2 separate regions of the Homo sapiens genome follow, and region 1 is linked to region 2. Evidence: fine-mapped expression QTL. A gene starts in region 2. The other region holds a variant in brackets. All regions are shown on one strand. Distances are from middle to middle. Region 1 overlaps ABHD17C (abhydrolase domain containing 17C, depalmitoylase). Region 2 holds the start of ABHD17C (abhydrolase domain containing 17C, depalmitoylase).

Evidence for each region.
Region 1: its variant is fine-mapped to the expression of ABHD17C in whole blood (TOPMed, PIP above 0.99).

The regions. Positions count from the first base shown.
Region 1 is chr15:80,710,112-80,725,380 of GRCh38, forward strand. The region is part of intron 1 of ABHD17C (abhydrolase domain containing 17C, depalmitoylase); the gene reads left to right. Among named protein-coding and RNA genes, the nearest start is that of ABHD17C, 22 kb to the left of the region's middle. The variant T/C (reference allele first, on the strand shown) is at 6,595.
Region 2 is chr15:80,687,897-80,703,165 of GRCh38, forward strand. It overlaps ABHD17C (abhydrolase domain containing 17C, depalmitoylase), which reads left to right and starts at 7,414. Exons shown (of 3, transcript NM_021214.2): 1 at 7,414-8,123. The coding sequence starts at 7,534. RefSeq lists silencers at 6,132-6,426, 6,888-7,047, 7,068-7,177, 7,198-7,617, 7,708-7,757 and 1 more and an enhancer at 7,948-8,017.

The sequences.
Region 1 (15,269 bases), 22 kb after region 2:
CATTCAGAGACTGACACATGGCCCCAAGCAGTGAGGGGTTAGCTATGTGCAGAAATGGGCTGAGGGACCAGGGTCCTAAGATGGGGCATGGTTGGCAGATGTAGAGATCATCAAGGAAGCCAGCGGGGGGCTAGAGCAGGGCAAGTAAGGGGTGCAGGGGTAAGAGGAGTAGTAGGAGATGAGGACTGGGAGTAACTGGGGAGGGGTGAGGGCATTAGTCACATAGGGCCTTGCAGACCATTGCAGGGACTTTGGCTTTGACAGCAGGAAATGGGAGCCATTGGAGGGCTTTGGGTAGAGGTATGACATGATTTGACTTAGGTTTTGGAAGGATCACTCTGTGTTAATGACAAATTGGAGGAGCTGATATGTCGAGGGAGGAAGGTGAGAGACCAATTAGGATGCAAATGCAGTATTTTAGATGAGAGATGCTGGTGGCTTGGGCCAGAGTGTTAGCAACAGCGGTGGTGAGATTTTGGATGTATTTGAAAGGCGGAACCAACAACAGTATTTGCTGATGCAGAGTGGTGAAGGGGAGTGTCAAGGATAACGCCAAGGATTTTGGCTTGAGAAACAGGAAAACTAGAAACTGAGACTGATTTTTTTTCTTTTTTTTCTTTCAGTTTCATTAGCTTTTTTCTTTTTGTGGAGATGGGGTCTCACTATGTTGTCCAGGCTGGAACTCCTGGGCTCAAGCAATCTTCCTGCCCCTGCCTCTGCCTCCCTAAGTGCTGGGATTACAGGCATGAGCCACCGTGCCCAGCAGAATTGCTGTTGATTGAGATGGGGAGGGCTGTGAGTGGCTCAGGATTGTGGGGCAGGGCATAGATCAGGAGTATTGTTGAGCTGTAGGCGCTCATCAGACCTTTAAGTGGAGATGTAGAGTAAGCAATAGAATTTAAGTCTAGAGTTCAGGAGTGAGGTCTGGGCTAGAAATAAATTTGGGAATTCTCCCTTCAGAGAAGGAAAGGCAATTAAGCCAAAAACAAACCTGAAAGAATTGGCAGTTTTTCCTGGGGTGGACCTACCTCTGCTTCTGTGCCAAAATCACCCTGTAGGCGCTCTGCTCATCTGGCTCCGTAGCATCTTTGATCAGTGTTGCCACCAGGCCTTTAAAAGAACCCAGTGTTGAGGATCGGATGCTCGCATGAATCACTGAGTGACAGGTCTCTGTAGGAGAGAGCATCCTGACATCAGAGTGTGACATCAGCTTGTGGGTTGTGGCTCTTTGGTCACTTTCTGTGGCTGGAGAGTGATCGCTCATTTCCCCCAAGATTTCTTTCCAGCACCCAGAAGAGCAGCAGGACAGCTCCATGCTTGCTGTAGCAGCCCCAGGCAGCCCGCAGGTGATTTCCCATAGGAGGCTCTATGCACTGCAGTTTTGCCAGAGGTCTTGTCATTACTGCATGCTGCCTGGCTTCCACTAGATTATTTCCAAAAAAAACCCTCCTACTGACTCGGTGTGGACTAGTGTTTCTTGATTTGTAAAATGTGAGAGAACCATAATTACTTTGGCAGGATTAAGTGTGGTGAAGATTACAGTTTTAATTTGCATAATGCCTCCTGCCTGTCTATTTTCCTGTATTTCCTCTCTGAACTGAAAATGGGACCAGTTTCTTGGGGACTTTTGCAGGCATTGGATCTTCTGAAACCCATTCTTGTATTATTTTTGAGTTTTCCTCTTATTTACATTTGCTAAAGAACTGCAAAGCTAACTAACTAACACACCAAACAATTGGAGTCTGTATTTCTCAGGACTTGTCCCTTCATTTGCAACTCTTTTTTGAAAAGTTCTAGGTAGAATGAAAGACTGCTGCCTGTATATTTATGAAGGAAGAAAAATGCCGTGGCCTTTCTTTGCTCTTAACCTGCTTTTCTGCAGTCGTCAGATGCTGGTGTCCATTAGCCCTCCTGCACCATTCATATCTCTTCCTTGCCAGCAAGACAGACTTCCCGTTCTCTGTCCCCATAGTTCTAAGATTATGCCTTTGTTCTAGCCCTTATCCCCTGGTCCTTTGGTTACTGATGACTGTACCTGGACTCCTCCGTTGGAATGTGATCTCCTTGAGGACAGAGGTAGTATCTAACTCTTTAGACTCACCCGGAGCCCAGTACAATAGTTCTTGTGTCGAAGGACTGGGTTGAATCACTGTAAGAGGTAGGATTTGTATTGAGAGCTCTTTCTTTTCAGGTTCAGGATGTGGGGCCTTCATCTCCTTTGATTCTTGGAATGGAGGCATCAGTCAGGTGGCTGGTTCAGCCCCAGCTTCCTGCTGAGGTTCCTCTCTAGGCATGGATGTGAATGTGTAGCCCAGCCAAGGAGGGGTAGAAGGAGCCCTCTGGGCCCAGGAAACAGCCTGCCATCGATCCTTCAACTGCCTGGACTTCTGTATAGAAGACAAAGCTTATTTTCTTAAGAGCAGCCTCACCTGTCTATGGGTGAGGTCCAAGAAGTGTAACAGAAGTGCTCAGAGGAGAAGGGGAATGTTTGTTCTTCTTGTGGTGTGTTAGGGAGGAGTGTGTCCATCTGTCAGTGTAGTACAGCCCTCCATATGTGGATTGACAGCCAGCTCATTCTAATATGTTTTTATAATACTTGGGAAAAGTGACTGTGGTTGTTATGGTTGAAGGATATGCCTATACTTCAAGTGTCACTTGATAATGAAAATGCAGAATTCAAACAATTTTTTTCTAAATCTATAGTTTTACTGACTGCCTATCAGCTTCATCTCCTCGGATCCATGAGACCTGTGCATTTGCTGTCTTTTTGTTACTTTGCCATGTTGTTTATTAAAAACAAAACAAAACTTTATAATGGAAAAATCTCAAATTATATACAATGTACAGAAAATATTAAGCTAAATTCCATGGCGGTCTCATCACCTGCAGCAACTATTAACATTCCACCATTCTTACAGCATCTACAGTTCCACTCACACTCCACCCCCAGCCTCTTATTACTACTTTGTAAGTCTTTTTTTTTTTTTAAGGAAAAATGTACATGCATTGGAATGTACAAATCATAGCTCTCTTAACTTCCTAGCAGTGTCTTCTTGCCACCCACATCAGCTCTCAGGCGCAGTGATGAGCCAGCCACAGAGCCAGGCTCTCCTTGGTGTGCCGTGGTAACAGTGTCCTGCCATTTTTGGGATGTGGATTGCACTATGAGAGTATAGTTAAGGGAGGTTGTGGATAAATTTAATACCAAATAGTTACCGAAGGAAAGCCACTGAGGTCTTGTTCTTTTTTTTTTTTTTTTTTTTTTTTTTTTCAAAATCAGCCTTAGAAAGGAAAACAGAAAGAAAGATAGGGAACTCCAGGAGTGTGTCCCATTTGTCCAGAATTAGTGGTATGCCATAAACAGAGCCCTGGTCTGGAGCTGGGAGAACATTGGCTTTCATTAATATTGAGGTACAGGCCAGGTGCAGTGGCTCACGCCTGTAATCCCAGCACTTTGGGAGGCCAAGGTGGGTGGATCACAAGGTCAGCAGTTCGAGACCAGCCTGGCCAACATAGTGAAACTCCGTCTCTACTAAAAATACAAAAAATTAGCCGAGCGTGGTGGCAGGCGCCTGTAATCCCAACTACTCGGGAGGCTGAGGCACGAGAATGGCTTGAACCTGGGAGGCGGAGGTTGCAGTGAGCAGAGATCGTGCCATTGCACTCCAGCCTGAGTGACAGAGCGAGATTCCGTCTCAAAAAAAAGCAACAAAAAACATTGAGGTACACAGCTGTATGGCCTGGGTAGTCTTATAATATCTTTGGGTCTCATTGTCTCCATATACAGACCACACACACACACACACACACACACACACACACACACACATATATTTATTTATTTATTATTTTTCTTTTCTGAGACATGGTCTTGCTCTGTCACCCAGGCTGGAGTGCAGTGGCGCAATCATGGCTCATCACACCCCTGACCTCCTGGGCTCGGGTAGTCCTCCCACCTCAGCCTCCTGAGTAGCTGGGACTACAGGTGCAGGGCACCTCACCTGGCTAATTTTTGTATTTTTTTGTAGAGAAGAGATTTTTGCCATTTTGTCCAGGCTGGTCTTGAATTTCTGGGCTCGAGCAGTCTGCTTACCTTGGCCTCCCAAAGTGCTAGGATTACAGGCGTGAGCCATCACGCCCAGCCTGTCTCCATTTATAAAGTAGGCAGTTTGCATTAGATTGTAGTTCTGGTGTATCCGGCATTCCTTGAACGTCTGTTTTATGCTAAACACATTTCACACATTACATAATTTTAATCGCCACCCATCTGTGAGGCACAAACTGTTGTTGTCTCCATTTCACAAATGCAGAAACTTAGGACCATGATAGATGAATGATTTGTCCCAGGTCACACCATGTTAAAAGGTGAGCCAGGATTTGAACGCAGGCAGCCTGACCCTGGAGCCTATGCTCTAAAATTAGAAAATATTCACTACATGCATAGTCTTCCAAGGTGGCGGGGGGTGGACATCTAGAAAATGCTCAAGACGTACGCTAGGGGTGCAGAAAGACAAAACCAGAACTTATATTTTGGCTTAATATTTATTATTTTTCATTGTTTTTTGTGTGTTTTCAATTTCTGTGGATTTTGTAGTGTTTTAAAACACACACAGACACGCACAAATCGGGAGCACCTGCTCTCATTTTTATGGAAAAGAATGCATGATTAAAAGTTGAGACACCAGTGTTCTCAATTCATAGTGTTACTTAATATATTTTTGGATTTCTTTTCTCAGAAATACAGTATCTGAGCATGACAGTAAATTAAAATGCTTAGAAATTGCAGTCTTTCAACAAATTGAGTACTTGATATATGTCAGGTGTTGGGCTAAGTGCTAGGTATAATCTTCTGCAGTATAAAAAAATACACAGCGTTAGCCAGGATGGTCTCGATCTCCTGACCTCGTGATCCGCCCACCTCGGCCTCCCAAAGTGCTGGGATTACAGGCGTGAGCCACCGCGCCCGGCCTACACAGTTTGCATTTTAAAAGATTACTTTGTATACCCCTAGAGAGGTTCCCCCCCATGGAATTCTATATTGTCTAACTGTTTTCTGATGACATAAAATTTCTCCTGAGTCTTTGGAAATCAATTGAAAGGAAGGAAAGAATTGCAATGGCCATTCAGATTCCTCTCACCATTTGGATTGGGTGGTTCTGACCACTTTACCATTTTTTATGTTGATTCTGATCAGAGGAAGATGGCTGAGGATTAGTAAACAGAAACCTGGATAACTGTAGGTGGGCCTAGGTTAAGAGCAAGGACAGTAGAGCCAGACCACCTGAGTTTGAATCCTGCCTACACTGTTTAATCTCTGTGCCTCAGTTTCCTCTTCTGTAAAGCGGGGAAATGATAATTGTGAATATAGTAGGATTGTTATTCATAGTAAATGAGTGAGTGTTTGCAAAGTGCTTACATGTAAGTTGGATAGAATACATTTTTAAAAAACTGAAAGGAATGAGGGAAAGATATGAATGAATGAATTTATAGTAGTAGACAGCTTTCAAAGATTTGAGGAAGAGCAACCCACCTATTTCTAAATGGGTTTGTGATCTTCAAAGCGCTTTCACGTACACTCTCTTGGTTCCTAAGAACGGTTCTGTGCAGCCCACATGGCTGTTAAGTAGTGAGTGCAAGGTTTCCATGTATTTCTTTCGACTTTTACATGTTTTCAGGGTTTCAGTTGCCCAGATTAACTTGTTGCCATTAGTAGTCATTTTTGTCATTCGCTTTGTAATGCTTTTGTCAGTCTAAATAAAGCAGTGTGTCCAAATGGTCTAGCAACATAGTCTTTCCCTATTTGACCTGAAAAAAAAAATTTAGAGCAATTGAATTTTAATTCTTACAGTATGCTTGTGGACATTACTGTAATTGTTTTCTTGAGCCATGATAACCTATATTAAATAATCTGGAGCAACATTTTATTCCTGATTATTTAAACAAGGACCAGTTTTTCCTACTGACTTGCATCTTTTTAGACAGGGAGTCAAAATCTTTAAAAGTCAGTCTGATGTGTTTATGGAGTCTGCAACATGCCTAACTCTAAGAGGTAACTAAAGAAGGGGGTTCTTTTATCTTCCAAGAGCATGGCTTATTATTGCAGGTGGCTTCCTGGAGATGTGCGTACTCCAGGGAGAAAGGATGTTGATTATAACTAGCTGCTCAGGAGCCTGGTCCTTGGCAGTTCTCAGTAAAGGCTCTTTGACCTAATTCCACAGACTAAGCTCCGACATGCTTCTGTCTCAAGACCACAGGGACAGCCGCGTAAGACAAGGCCTGTGACCTTGTTGGAAACGTCTCTGCTTCATGGGTTCTTGCCAGTCTGTAGGTCCCCCACAATTTCTACAAAGTAAGAAGTTCCCTTTAACCCTAAAATGAGGGGGCCCTGGCAATAGAAGAGCTACGATCATGTCTAGAGCCTCTGTAGGTTTCTTGGTAGATTGGATCTCTAGTGTAAGATGCCATTAATAAAGGAAATCATCTTAAATCCCTAGTTCTCGGTTGTCATTCCACTTTACATCCCATCAGATACTTGGAAACTGCTGGTTTGTAAGCTCCATGAAGGCAGAAGTGGCGTCTTGTTCATATTTGAAT[T/C]CCCTACAGAACCTAACGTGAAGTGGAGCCTCAATAAATCCTGGGTGAAGTAGATTAAATTATTCTCTTACTTAATCTCTTTTGCAGCCGGAATGTTCCCAGTTCCCTTGACCATTCTTTGTATAAGGTATTTCCAAATTCTTCACCATCCATGTCCTTCTCTCCGAACGCATCCCTGTTGAGCAGAATTTCTGAGACAGGCCCGTAGTGCAGGTATGGTCTGACGAGGGGCAGTGCAGTGGGTCTGTTCCCCCATGACCTCATCTCGCCAGTTAATGAGGCTTAAAGATGAACAAATAGCCTGCTATTATCTGAAAAGCATTTCTGAAAATATTGCTTTGAGCAGGATGATAGACTTGTTATAGGGAAGATTCCATTCATTGAAAGCTTACTTAAAAATATTTCCCTAGTTATATTTTTATTTTTATTAATAGTTTTTTAAATGACATTTATTTCTGGGTTTTCACACATGTGCTTTACATGTTCTTGTTTTCCTTTACAATTGAACATACACTCTATCAGCCAGAGGCCAGTGAGCATTTGATGGGGGCCAAAAAAAAAAAAAAGAGTTTTGGCATAGCTAATACTTTTCATCTTTGCCTCATCCATATTAAGTTTGAGTCTTGGGCTTATTATTAATTTGAGCACTTTCATTTTTTTCTATTTTCCACTCGTTATAAAATTACAACAAATTTTTTTTTTTTTTTTGAGACAGACTCAATTTGTTGCGCAGGCTGGAGGGCGGTGGCATAATCTTGGCTCACTGCAACCTCTGCTTCCCAGTTTCAAGCGATTCTCATGCCTCAGCCACCTGAGTAGCTGGGATTACAGATGTGCACCACCATGCCTGGCTAATTTTTGTATCTTTAGTATTTTCATCATGTTAGCCAGGCTGGTCTTGAACTCCTGACTTCAAGTGATCCACCCGCCTCGGCCTCCCAAAGTGCTGGGATTACAGGCGTGAGCCATTGTGCCCAGCTGCAAAATGCATTTTAACAGTGGTTTTAAAATCTTTATTTGGCAATCTTTATTTTTAAAAATTGGAACCATTTTTCTTCAAAAGTTGAATTAGGATTGAACCAGAGTAGGAAGCCGAACCTTCTCCCCTGGACTAGGTTCCTGGGGAGCTTAAGATGCTCTGAAACAGAATTTGAAAATGGTTGCAATAAAATATTCCCATGATTTCACAAGTACTGCTGAGTAAGGATGCTGCTGCTCGCCTAACGGAACTACTAGCTGGTAGCCCCATCATCATGGAATACAGAGGTCTGCCTGGGGAGTCTCTCTGAACCTGTTCCAGTTCAGACAGACTGCCTGATTATTGAAAAATAAATAAATAGTTAAATAAAAACAAAACAAAACAGAAGCCTACTTGAGTTGTTAGGAAGGTGGTTTAGATTAGGAGCATAGGATTGTTTGAGATTTGAACACTGCCCGTGTAAGCTTTTCTAACAGTCCCATGCTTTTGATCAATTATAAGATCCTCCCTCAAAAAATTTCCCCCCATAAACTATTGCCAAATCAGGTCTCTAGCTTGTAGTTTATTTTTTTTTTGACTGGCTTTGAAGACTTTAAAATATTTATCTATATTAAATGTCTTCTTGTAATTTTATTTTATTTTTAAATTTTATTTATTTATTTTTTTGAAATAGAGTCTTACTCTGTTGCCCAGGCTGGAGCACAGTAGCACAATCTCGGCTCACTGCAGCCTTTGCTTCCCGAGTTCAAGTGATTCTCCTGCCTCCGCCTCTGGAGTAGCTGGGATTACAAGCATGTGCCACCATGCCTGGCTAATTTTTGTATTTTTTAGTAGAGACGAGGTTTCACCATGTTGGCCAGGTTAGTCTTGAACTTCTGATCTCAAGTGATCATCCCACCTCAGCCTCCCAAAGTGCTGGGATTACAGGCATGAGCCACCCATGCCCAGCCGCTTCTTGTAATTTTAAACCCCACACTTTGCCCATCAATATCTCCTTGCCACTGACCTTAATATTCAATCTTGGTTTTTAGATCAGATTCTTAAATGTAATTACTGCAAATTAGCATCTGGTGACTTGGAGGACTGCAGCATCATTCCAATAGAGTGGCGTCATTTTGCTACAGCTGAAGAGACACGGTTGATTTATGAAGGGCAGAGTAAGGTAGAGGAGAGAGATAATAACTTTGTGTAACTTTGTCAGTCAGTCTGAATAATGCCAGCATTTCATGTCCTCATACAGTGATGATGGCGACATACAGGGTAGTAACTCCCTCTTCTATTTTTTTAAAGAAGGAATGCCTTTGGGGTATTAATGGAGAATATGCCTTGATAAGTACAGTAAGATGTGTTATTAGGTATTAGGATATACCAGCCTTCCAGTGAGAAGACTTAGTAATAAATGAGTAGCATTTTAATGATAACATTTAATGTTTCTACTTAAATAATATATGCAGACAATGTAACGAGTCAAACAGAAAAGATCACGAAGAAAAGCAAGAGCCATCCCTCTTCCTCTTGACTCCTAATAACCAGGAACAACTTTAGACAGTTATTTGTTGACTTTCTGCAAAGAAGTGAGAATTTTTCTTGGTTAACCAATTTTGCGGACTTCCTTTTACTATTTCCAGTGTTTTATAGTTATTTTTGGTTCTTCATTGAGAGTGTTTGTAATTTTTAGGTAATGTCCATGAGCTTTATTTCTTCTTCTGTCCCCTTGCATGAGCACCCGAACTCTCCTCCCTTTCCTTACCCCCAGTTCCTACTTGCTGTCAGCCTAACTTTTACTACTACAGGATTAAGGTTGCAAACATCTCCATTCTTTCTGGTAGTCACAAGTGACTTTCCATTGATTTCTATCATTTGAATTTATAAGTTTAAAAAATCAGCAAATATCATTACTATGGGGATATGTGTTATGCTAGAGTAACATTTTCATCTCTACACATGGTTTCAGGGCTTCCAGCCCATTCAAAGATCATGTTTTGTAGATCTTTCTGATTTAAGGCAAATGTGTACTCCAATCATGGCTTAAAAACTGCTATATATCTAATTTCATCTTTGAATCATGATTTCTTTATATTACATTTTACATTTCCTGAATTTTGTGATCACCTTTTCTTTTTGTTTTTTGGAAACAGAGTCTTGTTCTATCGCTCAGGATGGAGTGCAGTAGTGTGATCTCAGCTCACTGCAGCCTCCGCCTCCCAGGCTCCAACAATCCTCCCACCTCAGCCTTCTAAGTAGCTGAGACTACAAGTGCACACCACCACGCCCAACCAATTTTTTTGTATTCTTTGTTGAGGTGGGGTTTTGCCATGTTGGCCCGGCTAGTCTTGAACTCCTGGGCTCAAGAAGCCCTCCCACCTTAGCCTCCCAAAGTGCTGAGATTACAGGCGTGAGCTACCGCAACCAGCCTCCTTTTCTTTTTGTTGTTTAGAAAAGGATCGTGGGGTTTCATCATTTGCTCAGATGTTTCTGTCTTCTTTGTTACACTGTCTTTTGCATCACACTCTCCCTTGTCTTTTGGAACCTTTCACTTTCTCCCAATTTAATTTTCTGCTTCCCTGCCCAGGACTCAGGGATCACCTGAGGCCTTTCCCCTTTCTTGGTGGGCCCCCTGTTTTCCAGTTTCTACTTGTTCTTTCTTGGTTCTCTTTCTAGTTTTGCTAGAGGAAGTTTGTAATATCTTCAAAGGAATGGAAATGTAGGAGGTAAACTTTCTAGAAACCACTTGATGGATCCATGTCTGAAGGTCAGTTGACTTGAGAATGTAGAAGGCATTGTCCTGTAGGCACCTGGAATGCAGAGCCTGGTGCTGGACTGGTTCTGGTTTCTTGAAGCTGGCCTGTTTTTTCTTCTAAGGAAGCTTTTAGGATTTTTTTATATATATTCTTTGTGTTCTGAAGTTTTACAAAAATATTCCAAGGGAGGGTCTTTTAAAAATGATTATTAATGGCCGGACGCAGTGGCTCATGCCTGTAATCCCAGCTCTTTGGGAGGCCTAGGCAGGCGGATCACCTGAGGTCAGGAGTTTGTGACCAACCTGGCCAACATGGTGAAACTCCGTCTCTACTAAAAATACAAAAATTAGCCAGGCGTGGTGACGGGTGCCTGTAATCCCAGCTACTTGGGAGGCTGAGGCAGGAGAATCACTTGAACCCGGGAGGTGGAGGTTGCAGTGAGCCGAGATCACGCCACTGCACTCCAGCCTGGGCAACAGAGTGAGACTCTGTCTCAAAAAAAAAAAAAAAATATTAATTTATGTTGAACACTTAATGGGGGCCCTTACCGACTGAAGACTTGGATCCTTTGGTCTCAGAGATTTTCTTTAATATTTCTTTCAAAATTTCTTTTCCTACATTTTCATAGGTGTCTTTTATTACAACTTCTATTATACTGACCTCTGGATTTTCCTTGTCTCCCATATTCTCCATCTTTTTGTCTACTTTGTTTGATATTCTGAGAGGCCTCTTCAACTTTATTTTTGGGACTGTGAGTTAGATTTTGTGTTTACCCATCATTTTTTGTCTTTTTTTTTTTTTAACTCTTTGACTTCCCTTTTTCATAACATCCTGCTCTTGTTTTAAGGATATATTTTCATAAATCCAAGAGTATACTTATTTTTTTAAGCCCTATATGCTGGTCCCATACCTGTCTGAGTCCTCTGTGAAAGATACTTGGGTCTTTGATGCTGCTAGCTTTCCTTGTATGTTGGTAGGTTAGCTTGGTGATAAAGAGCCTGGTCACTGGCTCAGATTTGGGCTGAATCTTGGCTTTTTCATTTCCTAATTGCAAAGTACTTTAATAATAATGATATCCAACTGCTAGAGGTATTGAACATTAAATCATTTAGTACATGTACTTTTAGAATTGTGCCAGGCAAATAGCAAATGTGCCGTAAATGCTATCGTCATTGTCATCGTCATCACAGGCAAAATAGCAGATGTGCCATAAATGCTATTGTCATTGTCGTCACTTTTGTTCTTCAGTTTACACTGAGGAAGGAAAGATTGGGTAACCAGGTTGGGTTTCCTCTGTGCAGCGTAAGGTGGTATTCCTTGCCAGGCCTCTCCCGCAAGAGGAAATTTGGCTGGGGGCTTTCAGACACACGCAGCCAGTAGGGCACTGGGGGCCTCCTTCCTTGTTGTGGTAGACTTTGTTTCTGGAGGGAAGGAGGCCCCCCAGTGCCAGCATAAGGATGACTTTCCTTGAGAGCACCAACTAAAAGTCTTAGCTCACCCAGGAGGGCTTTATACTTTGTGTTGGGAAGGGAGTTGGATTTGTATAACTTTCTGTTCAGACTTCCTATAATTTACCTATTTTTAGTTGCATGCTAATTTTGAGTCGGAATCCTCTCTGGGATTCAGGTGGTTTCCATCTTCCCTGCAGCCCTGTTATAGCATGTCCTGGACAGAGTTCTCCACTCGATTTTATCCGTCAGTTTGTTTCCACACACCTTCAGTTACCGAGAAGCGCACTGGAATTCCTTCTGATTTTTCCCTGTCTTCCTATTCTCTCTGCTGTTGTAAGTTTATTTCTTTCTAATTTTTATGCTGCTTTTCCAGTGATGTTTGGATTGGTTGAAAAGTGAACAGATGGGCTCAGGTCATCATTTTGAACTAGAAGCCAAAGGAATCTTTTTTTTTTTTTTTTTTAATGTTTCCCCTTTATCTTCACTATGAGAAAGGAATCTTTTTTAAAAGAACTGCTTTGTTGCGCTGTGATTGACATACAAAAAGCTGTAGATATTTAATATATACAACTTGATGTATTTGAAGTTTACACCTATGAAACCATCAAACTGTCATCACTGTTGTTGCCATAAACTTATCCATCACTCCAGAAGTTTTCTCTTGCCCACCCTTTTTTTTTTTCCTTTTGTGGTAAGAGCACTTTACATGAGATCTTCCCTGTTGGTTAATTTTTAAGTGTACAACGCAGTATTGTTAATCATATGCTCTATACTGTACGGTAGACCTCCAGATATTTATTTCATATAACTGAAACTTGGTACCCTTTAACCAACACCTCCCCATTACTGTCTCCCCTAACGCCTGGCAACCACCATTCTACTCTGTGCTTCATGTGTTTGCCTATTTAGATTCCACATGTAAGTGAGATCACGTAGCATGTGTCTTTCTGTGTCTGGCTTATTTCATGTAGCATAAAGTTCTGCAGGACCATCCATGTTGTTGTAATTGGCAGGATTTCCATCTTTCTAAGGGCTGAGTAGTACAGTTAGCTTTCGCATCTACAGATTCAACCAACCTTGGATGGAAAATAACAGTGTTTAAGCAATGCACAACTTGTGGATACGGAGGACCAACTGTTCACATCCTTAGGTTCTGCGGGGCTGACTGTGGGACTTGAGCATCTGAGGATTGTCGTCCTGGAACCAGTCCCCCAAGGATACTGAGGGATGGCTGTATTCCATTGTTTGTGTGTGTGTATATATGTGTGTGTGTGTGTGTGTGTGTGTGTGTATCACATTTGTCTGAATGACACAAAGGAATCTTTTAAATTCCAATATTATAAACCTGTGTTTTTCATTGTGAGCTGCCAAGGCTGTTACATGTGCTGGTGATCAGGGCACCCCCTCCCATGACCCAGGGGTCACCACTGACTTCTCAGCCTGTGTGAACAGAAGTTGCTATTAATGAAGCCTGCACAGTTGCAGGTGAACTTCTCCATGGGTGAGACTGTCCTGTAATTTTAATAATGCTGACAGCCAGATTAGTTTCATTTGGTGTCCCATAAGGAAGGAACTGACTAGATCATGTTGTTAGGGCCTATGCTCATTATCTCTTGTTGAATTACCATAGTCTAAGGGGTAATTTACCATGGATAGTATTAGGGATTCCAAAACCCCATCTTATCAGTGTTCCACAGTTTATCAGACTCAGCTAGTACACACTAAATGACTCTTAATAGATAGTTTATTAACTTACAATGAGAAATATTAGGTCAAGCGGATGTTTGCGTTGTTATAAACACATTGTCTCTGTTCAGGCACAACTTAAAGTCACATTGCCACAGGTTTCCTGGGGCACACAGAATCAGTGCAGGAAGAGAGGCTGCTGCTTTGCGTGGCCGATGGCATGAGTCCTTTCTAATCCGACCAACCGCTGTGGCATCATCCTGCTGCAGCTGAGGTGAACGGGGTGCTTGCATTTGCCTGTCAGTATGGTCTGTCCTCCTGACGGCCTCTGAGCAGAATGAATTTAAAATCATTTTCAGTCCGGGTGCAGTAGCTCGCACCTGTAATTCCAGCACTTTGGGAGGCTGAGGCGGGTGGATCACTTGATGTCAGGAGTTCGAGACCAGCCTGGCCAACATGGTGAAACCCTGTCTCTACTGAAAATACAAAAATTAGCTGGGTGTGGTGGTGGACACCTGTAATCCTTGATATTTGGGAGGCTGAGGTGGGAGGGTTGCTTGAGTCCAAAAATTCAAGACCAGCCTGGGCAACAAGGCAAAACTCCACCTCTACAAAAAAAATTAAAAAAAATTAGTCAGGTGTGGTGGGGCATGCCTTTAATCCCAGAAGGTGGGAGGATTACTTGAGCCCAGGAGGTTGAGGCTGCAGTGAGCTGTGATTATGACACTGCACTCCAGCCTGGGCAACAGAGCAAGACCCTGTCTCCTCCTTCCCCGTCCCCTCCAAAAAAAACCCCTTATCATTTGTGATGAAATAGGCTTAAAATATCTTGTGTACTTCTTTTCCATCAAAGCAGAAAATCGGCAGTGTAATAATTTATTAATGACTCAGGGTCGTCACTGTGGAAGTTGGGTATTATACAGTGCAGTGATTTTTGATTGATGATTGAGTTATGTCTTGTTTAGAATGATGTATAAAATATTAAAAGGGATAAATTCTCATAAGGAAAAACATAAATAAGGCTGAAAAAATATAAAATAGAGCCACAAATAAGGTTTAGAAATGCCTCCTGTAGTCAGCTGCTGCCTGGTCTCTGGTGTCTGTACTGGGTAGAGTTGCCCCCAAGCTCTGTGGGTCTGGGAGGGTGATGGATGCTCCTGCACAAAAGTAACCTGCAGTGCTGTTTTCTCCCCCTCCTCCTCCTTCTCCTTCTCCAGTTCCCTCCTCCTATTATTCATTCTGTTCCTAGTTTTATCAGGGATGGAGTTTTCTGCTCCTGGCCCTTTCTTGGAATCTTTTTATTGGTGGTGGGTTTCAGTGGAGGAGAACAGAGTGACATGCTTTTACTTTGACAATTTTTATTACAAATCCTATCAAAGGTCTTTTAAATCCTGCACCAAGTAGTACTTCCATGTTGTCTTCATTATATAACCACTGTTGTTATGTTTTTATACCCTAGTGTCTTACAGAGTGACCAGAGTCAAACAAAGAATTGCAGGGAAGAGGCACGAAGACACCAGGGCAGTGTGCCTAACCAACACGATTTTGTCTATGGGATAGTTTCATTTCTGGATGTGACTGCCTATTGGGTATCAGGGTCCAGTCTTACAGAGAATATAACAACGAATACAACCTCATGAACCAAAATTTGCCCCAAACACTGAACCCATAAATACAGAAAAGTTTCTCCACCGTTTCTGAGTCAGCAGACCCTTGGAATGGAGATGATCTGAAGTGTCTCCTTCCTCAGGCATTCTCAGAGTGATGGGCTGTTGCAGACATGGGATAGGTGAGAATTCCTGCTCTGTGTGATTATCT
Region 2 (15,269 bases):
GCCAAATTTCCTTCCAGAAAGTTATACGAATTAACACTCTTGCCAGAAAGTTGTATATGAGAGTGCCTGCACTCCAGCACCATGTCCAACAGAGTGCTAGTGGTCTTTATTCGTTTTCAGAAAAAGATCTTTTAGTTTGGGTCAATCGAAGGGGGTAAAAAATACAGTTTTTCAAATTTGCTTTTTTAAAACTAATGACTCTAAACATTTTTTCATATGCTTATTGGCCATCTGTACTCCTTTTTATAAAATGCTTGGTCATTTATTCTGACAATTTTTCTCCAGTGGGGTGTTTGACTTTAAAAAAAAAAATGAATTTGTAGCAAATATTTTTGCCCAGTTTGTCAAAATCCTGAAGATTAAAAAATATGTAAATTTTATTATGAAAATTTTCAAACATATACACAAGTAGAGAACAGTATATCAACCCCCCATATACCCATCAACCCATGATTCAACGATTATCAACTCATGGCCAATCAATCTTGTTTCTTGTCTATCTTCCTTCCTCACCCTCTCCTCACATTATTTGATTTGATTTGATTATTCTTTTTAAGACAGGGTCTTGCTCTGTCGTCAAGGCTGGAGTGCACTGGTGTGACTTCTGCTCCCTGCAACCTCTGCTTCCCGGACTCTAGCAATCCTCCCATCTCAGCCTCCCAAGTAGCCAGGACTACAGGCAAGCACCACCATGCCTGGCTAACTTCAGTAATTTTGGTAGAGTCTAAGTTCTGTCATGTTGCCCAGGCTGGTCTGAAACTCCTGGGCTCAAGCGATCCACCTGCCACGGCTCCCTGAAGTGCTGGGATTACGGGCATGAGCCACAGCACCAGGCAGATGATTTTTTTTTTAAAGCAAATCCTTAATACCATGTCATCTCATCTGTAAATATTTTAGTATAGAGAAGACTGAAAATTTATGTTATCAATTTTTTTTTTTTTTTTTGACAAGGTCTCACTCTGTCACCCAGGCTGTAGTGCAATGGTACAAGCATGGCTCACTGCAGCCTCCTGGGCTCAAGCAATTTTTCCGCCTCAGCCTCCTGAGTAGCTCAGACCATAGGTGTGCACCACCACACCCGGCTACTTTTTAAAATTTATTTTTGTAAAGATGGAGTCTCACTATATTTGAACTTCTGGTCTCAAGTGATCCTCCCACCTTGGCCTCCCAAAGTGCTAGGATTATAGGCATGAGCCACCACACTCAGCCCATGAATTTTTATCTAAATTTCTTTTTTGGTTGTCTCTTGGTTTCATTAAAAATAAATCTTTGATTTTTTAATCCATCAGAACTGATGTTTTCCAAATATGTAGCTAATTGAATATGTTAATGTATCCTCACTGATTTGAAATATCAACTTCATCATATGCAAAATACTTATACACTGCTAGGTCCTGTTGGTTTCTCTCTCTGGTCTCATGCTGGTATTACTATTTTTTGGAACATGCATTTAACATTTGTTATTAAAAATTTCCAGGAATAACACTATAATCATCCATGTATATTGTGTTAATGTGCAACTATCCAAAATTCTTTTAAAAAACACTTAAAATTGATGCCATGATATTGTTCATCATCATCTTAAAATTAGATTTGCAAACTCAGCATATAAGAGGCTGCTCCTTCCCACTTTCCATTTAAAAAATTACTTATTAAGTTTAAATTTACTTATTACTTAAATCCAGTCTATTACATCTTTGCATATTTTTAAGTGTTTGGAAATCACCAGAAATTTAATTCCAATCAAGTGACAAAGGTGTTTTATGTTCCCATTATGTACTAGGATATGATGTTTGGTGCCGATTACACAGGGAAAAACAGGTGGACACCGATCCTATGAAGTACTGTACCAACTCGAAATTCTGTCATCAAGTTCAGGGACTCTGGACCCCCTGTTAAGAATCTATGAATAGGAGATTGGATGAGATGAGTCAGAAATGCAGGTTTGAGGGCATTATCATCCATGGAATGACCGTGGTTATAGGAACTGTGAAAACACATTTCTGTGGGTGGGTGGTGTTTTATTTCTTTCAATCTTTATCTCTGCAGTGCTTTCTCAGCGGTTTGTGGATCTCAGAGCTCTCCCCGGCTGGGTTCCAGTCATCTCATTTACAACCCTTTGGATAAGGGCCTTCAGACTGAAAAAGATTCTGGGAAAAGATATTTTGCCTCCAAAAGTGTTTAGTTGAATGGCAGGCCTCTTATCCTAATTAATGTCAGCATAGAACTTCTGGAATAGCCTCAAAGTATCATTTATTTTAAAAATTATAACCTTTTCATGTTTTCACATTTCAGATTTGTTACTTTACTGGTTATCTCCTTAAAACGTTTTCCCATCTTTAGTCAGTCATACTTAAATATTTTTCTACAGAGGGGCAAGCAGGATTTAGGCACACTGTTCCACTACCGATCAACAAAGTACTCATTGTCCTTATTCAGAAAGCAGTTAAGAACAATGTAAGATCTTTGCTTCTGATTCCTGAATCAGTTAATGCTGCATTAGGTTACAGGTAACAAATAAACCAACTACAATGACATAAAAAGACTTAGTTTTTTCACATAAGAAGCCTCGACAAATACAGGCGAGATCGGGGCAGCTATTAAACCATGAAGGAAATAGACTATCTTTCTGCACCACCATCTTCAGCTGTGAAATTTACCCTCATGCTTGCAAGATGGCTGCTGTTGCTCAAAAAACAATGCCTGCAACCCAGGCAGGAACAACAACAAAAAAAAAGTGAAGGGAAACATTACAGCTGAGCCTGGCTCTGTTAAAAGTCTCTCCAGAAGATCCCCCAGTATTCTCCAGTTAGGGCCTATTGGACAGAATCCTGTCATGTGGCCATCCTGATGGCAGGGGAGGTTGAGTGACTATCTTAACTGGGTACATTGTTACCATAACAAAATTTGAGCTCTATTGGTAATAAATATGGAGAGAATGTCACAATTCCTTAGCCAGAGGACACAGTGTGATGCTGGCCTTGGCTCTGGACCACTTTGTATCTTCTTCAAAGCCCATAACTCCAATAATACTGCCCAAACCAGAAGGAACAGGCTTGGTATTTTGGAAGCATTCACTAAATCACTCATTCATTCTTTTATTTTATTATTATTTTTGAGACAGGGTCTTGATCTATCACCAAGGCTGAAGTACAGTGGCATGATGACACCTCTTTACAGCCTCGACCTCCTGGGCTCAAGTGATCCTCCCATCTCAGCCTCTGGAGTAGCTAAGACTACAGGAGTGCACCACCACACCTGGCTAATTTCTTTTTGTATTTTTTATAGAGATGGGGTTTTGCCACGTTGCCCAGGCTGGTCTCAAACTCCTGAACTCGAGCAATCTGCTTGCCTCAGCCTCCCGAAGTGCTGGGATTACAGGTGGGAACCCCTGCACCTGGCCTCTCATTCTTTAATTTAGCAATTTAATTAACATTTACTGAGCATCTTCTCTATGCCAGTCATAGGGGAAACGATGAACAAAATACACATGATCCCTGATTTCACTGAGTATCCAGTCCCAAATTTTTAAAAAAATGTACAATGGGGCAACATTACCTTAGATTCCATCAAGACAACCAGATTCTGTTTTTAAGCATGAGTATCCTCTTATGGTCAAAAGTTGGTTCTACTTTTACAAATAAAAGTGGTCTTGAGCAACTCCACATCCAGCTGACTAGTGTGGAAGCCAAAATTCAGTGTGTAAAGGGCCAATATTAAGTAATAGAGATCAGGGTATTTAGTTATGTGGAATATTGTTTAGTTCATCAATACTGGCTGGCTTGGCAGGATACAGAGTTACCTAAGAGACAGATCATACAATGCACTTGTTGAGGGCAGGAGGAGCTGTGCATTAGCCACCTTTACATTCCCAAGTCAACTCAGTGACTGACTCATGATAAGTACCTAGCAGAGTAAATATGTTTGCTGACCTGAACTCAAAGTTAGATCTTTCTCTACTAGGATGATCAGAATGACATAGAAATTTAAGGCAGAGGTCCCCAAACCCCGGGCCGTGGACCTGTACTGGTCAGTGGCCTGTTAGGAACTGGGCCACATAGCAGGACGTGGGTAGCTGGTGGGTGAGCATTACTGCCTGAGTTCCGCCTCCTGTCAAATCAGCGGCAGCATTCGCTTCTCATAGGAGTGCAAACCCTATTGTGAACAGTGCATACGAGGGATCTAGATTGCGCACTCCTTATGAGAATCTAACTAGGATTTTCATGGAAAAAAATTGCCTTCCATGAAACCAGTCCCTGGTGCCACAATGGTTGGAGACTGCTGCTTTAAGGTCAAAGTGGACAGCTGGTAATCCCCAATTTTCACATTTTATAGGGCAAATGCATTCTTTATGTGCTGTATGTTAAAGTTTCCAAACCAACATGACAAGGCACACTAACACATTTGTTGTTAAAGATGTTAGATGTTAGAGACGTGCTGAGATCTTTAACCTCTTATCCCCTGGGCAGCACGTCTCATGTCAGTGGGCTACAGAAACTCTACCACTGGCTATATGTGGCATGAGATAAGAAAGGCTTGGTAGCTTCACTCTACGGCATATAATTTTAGGGTCTCAACTGAATATTTACACAAACCTGAACCAACATGTTTTCCTGGGGAATAAATGCTCTTTCAGCCCACCTCTGTGTAGCCTTGTAATAGAATGAAAACAAAAGCCAGGCTTTTATTTATTTGCTTATGTATTTATATTATACTGAATCACACTCCACAAATCCCTTGTGGAATGAGACCAGGTATAAATAAACAAGTATCTAGCTTTTAGATTTTTCTAACAATGCTAACACTGCTGCCAGGCCATCTGAAATATAAAGACTGTCTTTTCCATCAGCAGCACAGAAGACGAGTACTTGAGACTCTCATCATTCCCCCCTTTCATGAACTAAGGGCTATTCAATTCTTATAAAGGACAGGTGAGAGGAGTGGTATCTGAGAAAGACTGACTAGGGGGCTGTTAGATACCCTTTCATCTCAGTTCCCAAAGTTTGATTCTTGTTCTGAATTAGATTAGGGACTAATGCACTCGACTATAACCTTAGCTCCCCATAGAAATATCACCACTGAATCAGGACGCAAGACCATCTTCTTAGCTTTTATGAGGACTTGATTTTTTTTAAAGGCACATAAAAACTGTTTTGAATCTTCTGCTGATGCCCTAATTAGACTGTAAGGTATCTGAGAGCAGGGACTATCTTACTCACCTTGGTAGCTGTAGCACCTAACACAGTGGATGCTGTGAGCACAAAAAACATTACATACATAAATGCTGAATACAATAAAGTGACCAAAGTATACCAATGTGTAGCAAGTTAGAAAGCCTTTTTATTTTTTTGAGACATAGTCTCACTCTGTCACCCAGGCTGGAGTGCAGTGGCATGATCTCGGCTCACCGTAACCTCTGCCTCCTAGCTTCAAGTGATTCTCGTGCCTCAGCCTCCTGAGTAGCCGGGATTGTAGGTGCACGCCACCATGGCCGGCTAATTTTTGTATTTTCAGTAGAGACGGAGTTTCATTATGTTGGCCAGGCTGGTCTTGAACTTCTGACTTGAAGTGATCCACCCTCCTCAGCCTCCCAAAGTGGTGGGATTACAGGCGTGAGTCACTGTGCCCAGCTGTATAAAGCTTTTTTTTCTTTTTAAAGGATTTTCGCAGAAAAATTCTTTTTTTAAAAAAAAAAAAAAAAAAAAGGAAATGCAAACCTGCAAAGCTAGAATTGGGCTTTATGTGAAGAGTTTCACCAAGTGTGAAAACCTTCAAAACAGACTTCAAATATGCAATCTGGACAGGCTTTGTTACCAGGTTTTTAAAAATCAAGTTTGAATAGTTCAAAAACAAGTAAAATTGTTTTAGTGAAGAAATGGCCTTTTAAAACCCAGGTCCTAGCTGGGCAAGGTGGCATGTGCCGGTAGTCCTAGCTACTTGGGAGGCAGGCCGGAGGGTCATTTGAGCCCAGGAGTTGGGAGTCCAGCCTGGACAATACAGTAAGACCCTGTCTCTTAAAAAAGAAAAAATTAAAAGCGAGGTCCTGAAGGTTAATGAAATCAGTATCGGCAATTCATTTAGATGACGGTGCTCAAAATATTCGTCCTGTGGAAAGTCACAACGAAAGGTAAAATTCTCAGGACATCTGTGAGTTAAAACAACAGACCCAGCGTAGGGATTGTGCCAACCTCCCAGTCTCTAGCTGCCCTGCTGGCAGTCCAGGAAGGGTATCTCCTGTCAGTTCCTGAAAGGGAATTCTTCAGCTGCCAAATCAGGCGGGAAAAAGGAAGTATAGAAGGCTCTGTGGAAACTGGCACCAGAGCACAGTTTCAAGGCACCGAGAGTTATATTTGAAAAATCATGTAAAGGTGGCTGCCAAGATTACAGTAGATTTAAAGCAGTATAAGAATCGTTCATGACTAAGACCACTGAAAAATCCTGGACCCAAAACAACTCTAGAGACACAAACACTGTAAACGATACCTAGTATATACTTACTACCGGAAAATCTGCCACACGTGGGATTAGAAATGACAACCTCAACATGGTTTGTTGCTAAATACAGTACCCTCCTGTTCTAACAGCTGACTTTTATAGATACAGAAATGTACTAAGGGTAAAACCATGCCCTTAGAAAGGAAACGCTGTTGCTACCTATACAGAAACAGCCTCTCCTAATAAGAAACACACTGATGACCACCCTATCCCACAACCCCGGTACCCCTTACGGTGCTGAGAACTTTTGGTACTGAGCCAGTTCAGAAAGCAGCACACACGAGAGCCAAATATTTCGGGCACATTCCAACTCTTGTCCACCCCTTAGTTTCCTTTTCAGTAGACTCCCAAGAACCTCCATCCACGGGAGAAACCTGGATTTGGGGGAGGGAATCCCAGGGGGAGGGGAGGGGAGCGGTCCACCCCGGGACACATGCACCCCCTCCAGGGTCCCCTCTGCAGATCGGCCCAGCTGTCCGGGCGCAGAGCCCCCAGCCCCGGCACCCAGCTTCTCCGGGCCCCGGAGCCGCCTGGAAGCCCCCGTCGGCCGCAGGTCGAGAAGGTGCTTCCCAGGCCGGGGAAGGTGCCCGCGCCCTTGCCCGCAGCGCCCCGCCCCGATGCCCGGCTCTGCGCCGCGTCCCAGCGGCGGCGCCGCCGCGCGGTAACCCGGAAGTGGCGGCGGCGGCGGCGGCGGCGGCGGGCGTGCGGGAGCGGGAACGGGAGCGGGGGGCGGCGCGCACGAGCCGGCCATGGACGCCGCCGCCGGCTTTGTGTGCCGCGCGCGGGCCCGGGCCGCCCGCGCCTCGCCTGGGTTCCGGGGCCGCCGCTGACCCGCCCGGGCTCCGAGCGCCGCGCCCGCCGGGCCGGCCCCGCCTCCTGCCCTCCTCCGCCTCCGCCTCCTCCTGCCGCCGGGCGGGCGGGCTGCAGCCGCCCTCCGCGCTCGCCTGCCAGCTCCCTCGCCGCGCGTCCGTCCTCCGTCCTCCCGGGCCAGCCAGCCAGCCAGCCAGCCGGGCCGGCGGCGGGCACCAGGCCGTCCCGATGCCCGAGCCAGGCCCCAGGATGAACGGCTTCTCGCTGGGTGAGCTGTGCTGGCTCTTCTGCTGCCCGCCCTGCCCGAGCCGCATCGCCGCCAAGCTGGCCTTCCTGCCGCCCGAGCCCACCTACACGGTGCTGGCGCCGGAGCAGCGCGGCGCCGGCGCGTCCGCCCCGGCCCCGGCCCAGGCTACCGCCGCCGCCGCCGCGGCCCAGCCGGCACCGCAGCAGCCCGAGGAGGGCGCGGGCGCGGGGCCCGGTGCGTGCAGCCTGCACCTCAGCGAGCGCGCCGACTGGCAGTACTCGCAGCGCGAGCTGGACGCCGTCGAGGTCTTCTTCTCGCGCACGGCCCGGGACAACCGGCTCGGCTGCATGTTCGTGCGCTGCGCGCCCTCCAGCCGCTACACGCTGCTCTTCTCGCACGGCAACGCCGTGGACCTGGGCCAGATGTGCAGCTTCTACATTGGCCTCGGCTCCCGCATCAACTGCAACATCTTCTCCTACGACTACTCGGGATACGGCGTCAGCTCGGGCAAGCCCTCCGAGAAGAACCTCTACGCCGACATCGACGCCGCGTGGCAGGCGCTGCGCACCCGGTGAGCCTGCCGGGGTCGCCAGGCCTGACTTCCAGCTGTGGGGAGGCGGGGTGGGGGTCTCTTGGGGCCCCTGGGGCGGCCTGCCAGGAGAGGGGCCCCTCCTCCGGGGCTGAGGGCCAGCGGAGAGCCCCTTGGCCGCCGTAAATTCGCTTTTCTTGTCCCACCCTGGCTTGCTCCCACCCTCTCCAAAAACCGCGCCAGCCTTCAGGTTCCTGGAGAGCTCGGACTCAGAGAATTTTGCCTGCTTTGGCTCGCCTGTGTGTCGCCGGCCCACCGGCTGGGTCTTTTGTGGCTCCGGTCACCGCGAGTGGCAGAGTGTGGGTGCTTAAGTACCGGGCAGAAAGAAACAACTTGGTTCGAGTTTCGTTTGTACGAGCTGAAGTGACCTTGGGCAAGGCACATGGGTTTCTAGACTCAGTTTCCTTCCCTGTAAAGTCAGTGGGCGAGACAGGATGGCCTCTAAAAGACTTTCTGGTTGTAAAGTGCGGGCAGGACAATGTCTGGGCAACCTTGGAAACAGCTGGAGCGTCAGGTGGAGCGGGGAGTTTGCCTCCTGGTGGGGCAAAGTAGTGGCACTGTGGGGCAGGAAGTTAGCTGGTAGCTGTGGGCCTGGCACCTTCCACACGGCCTCCATAACAGTCCAGGATAAGTTTGAAACTTGCAGGGGCTGGGAAATCTCTGACCTTAAATTAGCATTCACAGAAGGACTGAAAAGTGTTTAGGGTGGGCCATCTGTGAGCCAGGCACAAACTGGGGGCATGGTTTAGGGGTTAGACCTGGTTGTTTTATAACAAGCAAACCAAAAACCTGACTTTTATTCACTATTAGACAAAAGTCTTATACATGTGCAGGTCAGGTTACCTGTTTGTGCTCCAGTTTGGGTATCTGTGACCTTTCCGACCTGCCTCATAGCAGTGATGGTGAAAATAACCTGAGGCCATGTCTATGATGAGATTTGATTTCTTCAGATGAAAGAGTCCCCAGAGGAAGTACACCGGGCATTATTGTCGCCATGGACCCTTCTATAGTTTTTATCTAAAACCTGTTTGCTTATGCACATCACCAACGTTAATGATTTTTTTTTTTCATTCGTACTCACGCATATGTTCCTAAGTGACTCCTTGCCTGTCTGGGAAAATGGCTTGTCCAACAGGGAAGTACTTAATATTTGCTCTATGTTGCATGTTTATGCCCTCCTGAAGTCCTGAAGGGGATGCCCTCATTGGGATTATAGCTTTTCGAAAGTGGCTTAGGCAGATGAGAATGTATCATATGCAGATGCATTGGGTCAGAGTCTGTAAGTAGTTAAAAGCCACCTGTTCCAGTAAAGGGTTTCAAAAGTATGTGTCACACACAGTCTATAGCTTGCTAGAATTTGCTGTTGGCAAAGGTATTAAAAATAAGGTTGGCATTAGATCTTTAAAATTTGAAACATGAAAATCCTACCTTGAGTAGATTTTTTAATTGAAGAGTTTCCATAGAACATTGCTTCTGTGTGTGCATGTCCACATTACAATGAAAGCCTTTCACATGGCTCACCCTTTGCCCCAAATATACAGGTGTGTCTGTGTTACAGCTTACGTGGAGTGTAGTTATTTCCTGGAAACTTTTTTTTTTTTGGTCATATTTAGTTGAATTAAGGGGCGTTGTTTTGGATAATGTTGAATTATCTGATAGTGTATCAGTTGAATTAAGGGTAATTGTTTCGGATAACTTTGAATTATCTGATGGTATGTCTAAAGATTGCCCATGATTTATTTAATGTTATACCAGAACTCATATCTAAGTTAATTTATTCACCTGTAAAAAAGGTTAGAATTTGAAGGCTGCATGCGAAGCTTAGAATTTGAAGGAACCTTATAGATCCTCATGTCTTGTGCTTTTCAAACTGTTTTGACTGTAACCTCACAGTAAGAAACACATTTTACGTTTTGATCAAGCACACATACACGTCTGTATCCACATACCTGAAGCCAATGCTTCACAAAACAGTAATTTTTCTATGGGCAGCACACATAGCAGAATATGTTGTTTTATTTCACTTTTTTTTTTTTTTTTTTTTTGAGACGGAGTCTTGCTCTGTCGCCCAGGCTGGAGTGCAGTGGCGCCATCTTGGCTCACTGTAAGCTCCACCTCCCGGGTTCACGCCATTCTCCTACCTCAGCCTCCCGAGTAGCTGGGACTACAGGCGCCCGCCACCGCGTCCGGCTAATTTTTTGTATTTTTAGTAGAGACGGGGTTTCACCGTGTTAGCCAGGATGGTCTCGACCTCCTGACCTCATAATCCGCCCACCTGGGACTCCCAAAGTGCTGGGATTACAGGCGTGAGCCACCGCGCCTGGCCTATTTCACTTTTATAAAAAAGAAAAAAAAAGATGGTTGTGAATTGCTAAATTTATTTCCCAACTCATGTATGGACACTGCACACGTTCACCCAGCTCATCTGACAGGAGGATAGACTGGCGGCAAATCAGCAGTAGGTCTCTTGACTACCAGTTTAGTACTCTTGCGAGGGCACCATTGCCACGGTAAGCATATTTATCAGATTCTTCAGGAGGTGCATTTGTGTGTCTTGGTTATTCTGCTGACATAAGAGTTACCTAATTCTGAAGCCAATCAGCCCCTCAACCACTTTCCTCTTGCTGTTCAGTATGGTTCTTCTGCTCTTACTTGCCTGGAGCAAGTTCTTATGCTATTCTCTCTTCTTTTACAGCTTAATTCATGTCAGTGCCATGGCAGGAATGCCTTCCATCCCATGTGTCCATTCTTCTGTTACTGGGTCAGACTCTGTTTTCCACCAGCCATCCCCCATGTCTTCTTTGGGAATCTTTATCTTTCCTGCCCTCCTAGTTAACCACACTCCCCAGGACACTGATTGGAGAGCTTGCCTTGTTCTGAGTCATCTTCATCTCTGTACTTAGATTATTCCCCCAGGAGGACTGTAAGGTGCAGTGCCCTGCAGGCCCCAAAGCCCCACACTCAGGACTTTGCCCCACTCTTCTGCTCACATCGTCTTTTGTATCTGCCCTTCTCCTGTGCTAGGAACAATGGATCCTGACTGGATCTTAATTGGATTAGGAGACCCTTTGTGTTCCCTGTGCACCTGGTACTCAGCCCCTTTGCTTGAGTTATCACAGTGTTGCTGTATCTGTTATTTAACTGTATCTCCACTAAATTGGAAGATCTCTGAGGGCAGGGACACTATGTCTTCTCTATTCCTGACAGTTGGCAAAATGTCTTAAAATAATAGGTAGTCATTGGTATTTGTTGAACGAATTGCACATAATGGGCGCCCCATAAATAAGTGGGGTAAAGTTAATTTTTCCTAAGTTGGACTCTTACAAGTACTTGGATCTTATTTTATCTTCGGGGTTTAATATCCATGGGTACAACCATAGACAAAAAAAAAAGGGCCAGATGTATTGGCTTGAGGCCTCATCCACTTTGTATTCATTGTATTGGTGTTCTTGTGACACTGAAATGTCTGTATTGAAGAGAAGAACAATACTAACCCATCCTTTGTATGTCTCTACATCTTTTATCCATTACCTATTTGTGCCAGCTCCTGCGCATGCTAGAGTGAGCTGTCCAGCCCTTGAAACAGATGTAAATACTACCAGTGTGCAGACCCCTCATGCATGGATAAAGACAGTGAATCCCCCCAGATGATGAGTATTAAGGTGGGCACGTAATCCAGAGTAAGGGTTTCAGGAGGAAGTAGATTTGGTAAGAAAGGTGGTTGTTGCCGTTTGGCCAATAGATGATTATTTTAAACTCTTGAAAAGTTACTGAAAAGAGTGTAGCGGAGAGGCAGGGTTTGAAGGAGCCAGGAAGAGTGGCATGAACAATGAGGAGAGCTCATTGAGCATGATGGAGAGCCCCAAGATCAAAACTTGTTTTACGTTTGCATTACTGGTAAGAAATATAAGTATGTTGTGAATACAAACAAGTGAGGGAATGAATTGAAATCACTTAGACATATCTGTGGAAAAGACACTGAAAATCAGGGTCACCTTATTGGAGTGTATTGTTGTCACTTGAGTTGGGGAAGTAAAGTGATTAATCTGTGCAGGAATGGCTGCCTATTGGTTAAGGTGGGAGTAGGCAGATTCAGCCTCCTCAACACACATCCTTCCAGGGGATCCTCTTAGGGCTGAACAGTTTTAGACTGTGTGTGCACAAGTGGCACCATGACTCAAGAGACAGTGAATCAGACTGATTTGAAACTATAAACCCAAACAAGCAAATAGCCCGAAGAATGAGGTGTAAAGGAGGCAGAGTATTTTAGCTGAAATATTTTAATCTGGAGGAACAGGAGAGTGGGACTCTCCTGTTTGGACATTTGTAACTTAGGTGTCTGCTGATGCCATCCACAGAAGTCGTCTTTGATGCTTCTTTTTGATGCTGGTGACAAAAGCTGTGGAGGAGAGAGGCGTTTGGTAATGTGGGCAGAGAAACGTTGATACAGTCAGAGAAAGCAGATGCAGAGGGAAGAAGATAAATAAGACTCTTCAGTGCCTTTAGTACAAAAGGCAAATTACAAAAGACTTAATATTTCATTTATTCCTTCATTTGACCAGTAAACCATTAAACATAGGCTGGGTGTGGCGGCTCATACCTGTAAACCCAGCAATTTGGGAGGCCTAGGCAGGAGGATCACTTGAGCCCAGGAGTTCAAGACCAGCCTGGGCAACATAGTTGGGACCCCCATCTCTACAAAAAATTTTTAAAAGTAGCCAGGTGTGGTGGTGTGTGCCTGTAGTTCCAGCTACCCAGGAGGCTGAGGTGGGAGGATCGTCTGAGCCCCAAAGTTTGAGACTGCAGTGAGCTGTGATTGCGCCACTGCTCTCTAGCCTGGGCAACAGAGTGAGATCCTGTCTCAAAAAACAAAACAAACAAAAAACCCCAAACTGTTAAACACACATTTATTTATGCTCTGCTTGTGCCAGACCGTGTACTACGTACTCTTGAAGTATCGTTAATCCCAAGCTGTTTCTTTTTGTTGTAAAAGGATGGATAGATTTCAGAGGCATTTTGAATACGTAACTATGATTTGCTGTTTTATAACTTTTGTGTCGGTGATTCACAGGATCCATAATTGGAAAATCCATGTCACAGCAAAGCTGTAGTGGCATCCTCTCAGGTCGTGGGACCCTTGAAAAACACCTTCTGTTGGTTGTGAATGGTGTTCACAGCCAGCAGTCTCAGGGTGGAATTCTCCTCCAGTAGCAAGTTACTTTCCTGGGCATGTTGAAGTTAATAACCTAACTTCTTTGTTCTCAGTGTTCTCAGAGGGAATACTATGATGCCACTAAGGGAAGAAAGCTTAGAGTTTCTGCTTGAGTTTGACTGATTAGGGAACAGAAAAACAGAAATATGTCGGCCGCGGTGGCTCACAGCTGTAATCCCAGCACTTTGGGAGGCTGAGACGGGCGGATCATTTGAGGTCAGGAGTTTGAGACTAGCCTGGCCAACATGGTGAAACCCCATCTCTACTAAAAATACACAAATTAGCTGGTCGTGGTGGCAGGCACCTATAATCCCACCTACTCAAGAGGCCGAGGCATGAGAATGGCTTGAACCCGGGAGGCAGAGGTTGCAGTGAGCCAAGATTATGCCACTGCACTCCAGCCTGGGCGACAGAGCGAGACTCCATCTCAAAAAAAAAAAAAACAAATGTTATGAATACTGTTTGACATAAGGGGAAAGCACAATGATATTTCTACAAAGGAAATAGAATGTTGGCTTGCAATTCAAGGCAGCCAGTATGTGAACAGGAAGAATGTAACTCTTAAGAACAGACCTGTTGAAATTGAAGTAGGCATAGTCCGTTTTGGGGATCCACTCAGAGCCCTTCTCTTTGGTCCACCTTCAGCCTGTTTCCAAGTGCTCTTTTGTCATACCTGGCTCTTCCGGCTTGCCTCACCGTGTGGTTCGGCAGGTTTTCTCTCTTTATCAGTACCAGAAGCTGAGCTCTCACTCTCCTCTTGCCACAATTTACTTACCCGTGGTTCTGTTTTGAGGGGCCTTGCTTTTCTCCAGTAATCCAGTTGCAAAGGATCTGACAGATGACTTCATTTTCTGTGTTAATGGGCAATAACTCCTTAATGTGTTCTCTTCCGAGCACAGTTGTTTTCATTTAGTGCACTCTTAGAGGCTCAGTCTTCTCTAAAATTCAGTCTTAGGTCAGGCACGGTGACACAGCCTCACTGAGACCTCCCTGTAGTCTCAGTTACTGGGAGGCTGAGGTGGGAGGATTGCTTGAGCCCAGGAGTCTCAGACCAGCCTGGGCAACATAGTGAGACCTTGTCTCTACAAAAAATAAATTAGCTGGGCATGGTGGCTCATGCCTGTAGTCTCTGAGCCCAGGAGTTTGAGACCAGCCCGGGCAACATAACAAGAACCTGTCTCCAAAAACCAAAATCAAGTCTTAAAATTCTAATAATGCCATGTCATATTGGTGTAGAAAGCATTTTTTTCCCCTGCAGAAGTCACTTAAATCATACAGTCCTGAGATTACTTAGAGTTTCCCTTTAAGGTCATTCCCTACCTTATATTACTGCTTCTATTCCTCACTCTGTCTCCAAATTTAGTAACAACTCTCTTCAGTGTTGATAATCCCATATAAGACTCCAAAATCTGGCTTTAGGAATTGCAGTGTTCATTTTGATAGCAGCTTTACCCTCTGTACTGGATTTTGCTTAGGCTCGTGTTGAAACTATAAATCTGCTCTACTTTAAGAAGCCTGTGTACAGGAATCCAGAGTCTCAACATATACAGTTAGGAGATTATTATTTGGATAACAGAGTGCTTTTTTTTTGTTAGGGCTGCTTTAAATAATAGGCTTTCTAATTTCATCTAAAAGATGTGATTCAAAAAAGACAAACAAAACCTTTTAGAGTAGAAAAATCAGTTCTGACTCTAGCACTCCCACTAATTCACTATGTCAGTTTTGTGCAGCTGTAACAGAAGATCTGCGACTGGATAGTTTATAAAGAAAGAGGTTTCTTTCCCAATTTCTGGAGGCTGGGAAATGCAAGATCGAGGCACTTGCATGTTTGGTGTCCGATGATGACTGCTCTGCTTCCTGGCTGGCTTCTTGAACCAAAGGCGGGAGGAAGGCTCTTGCTCAAAGCTTTCCTCCAG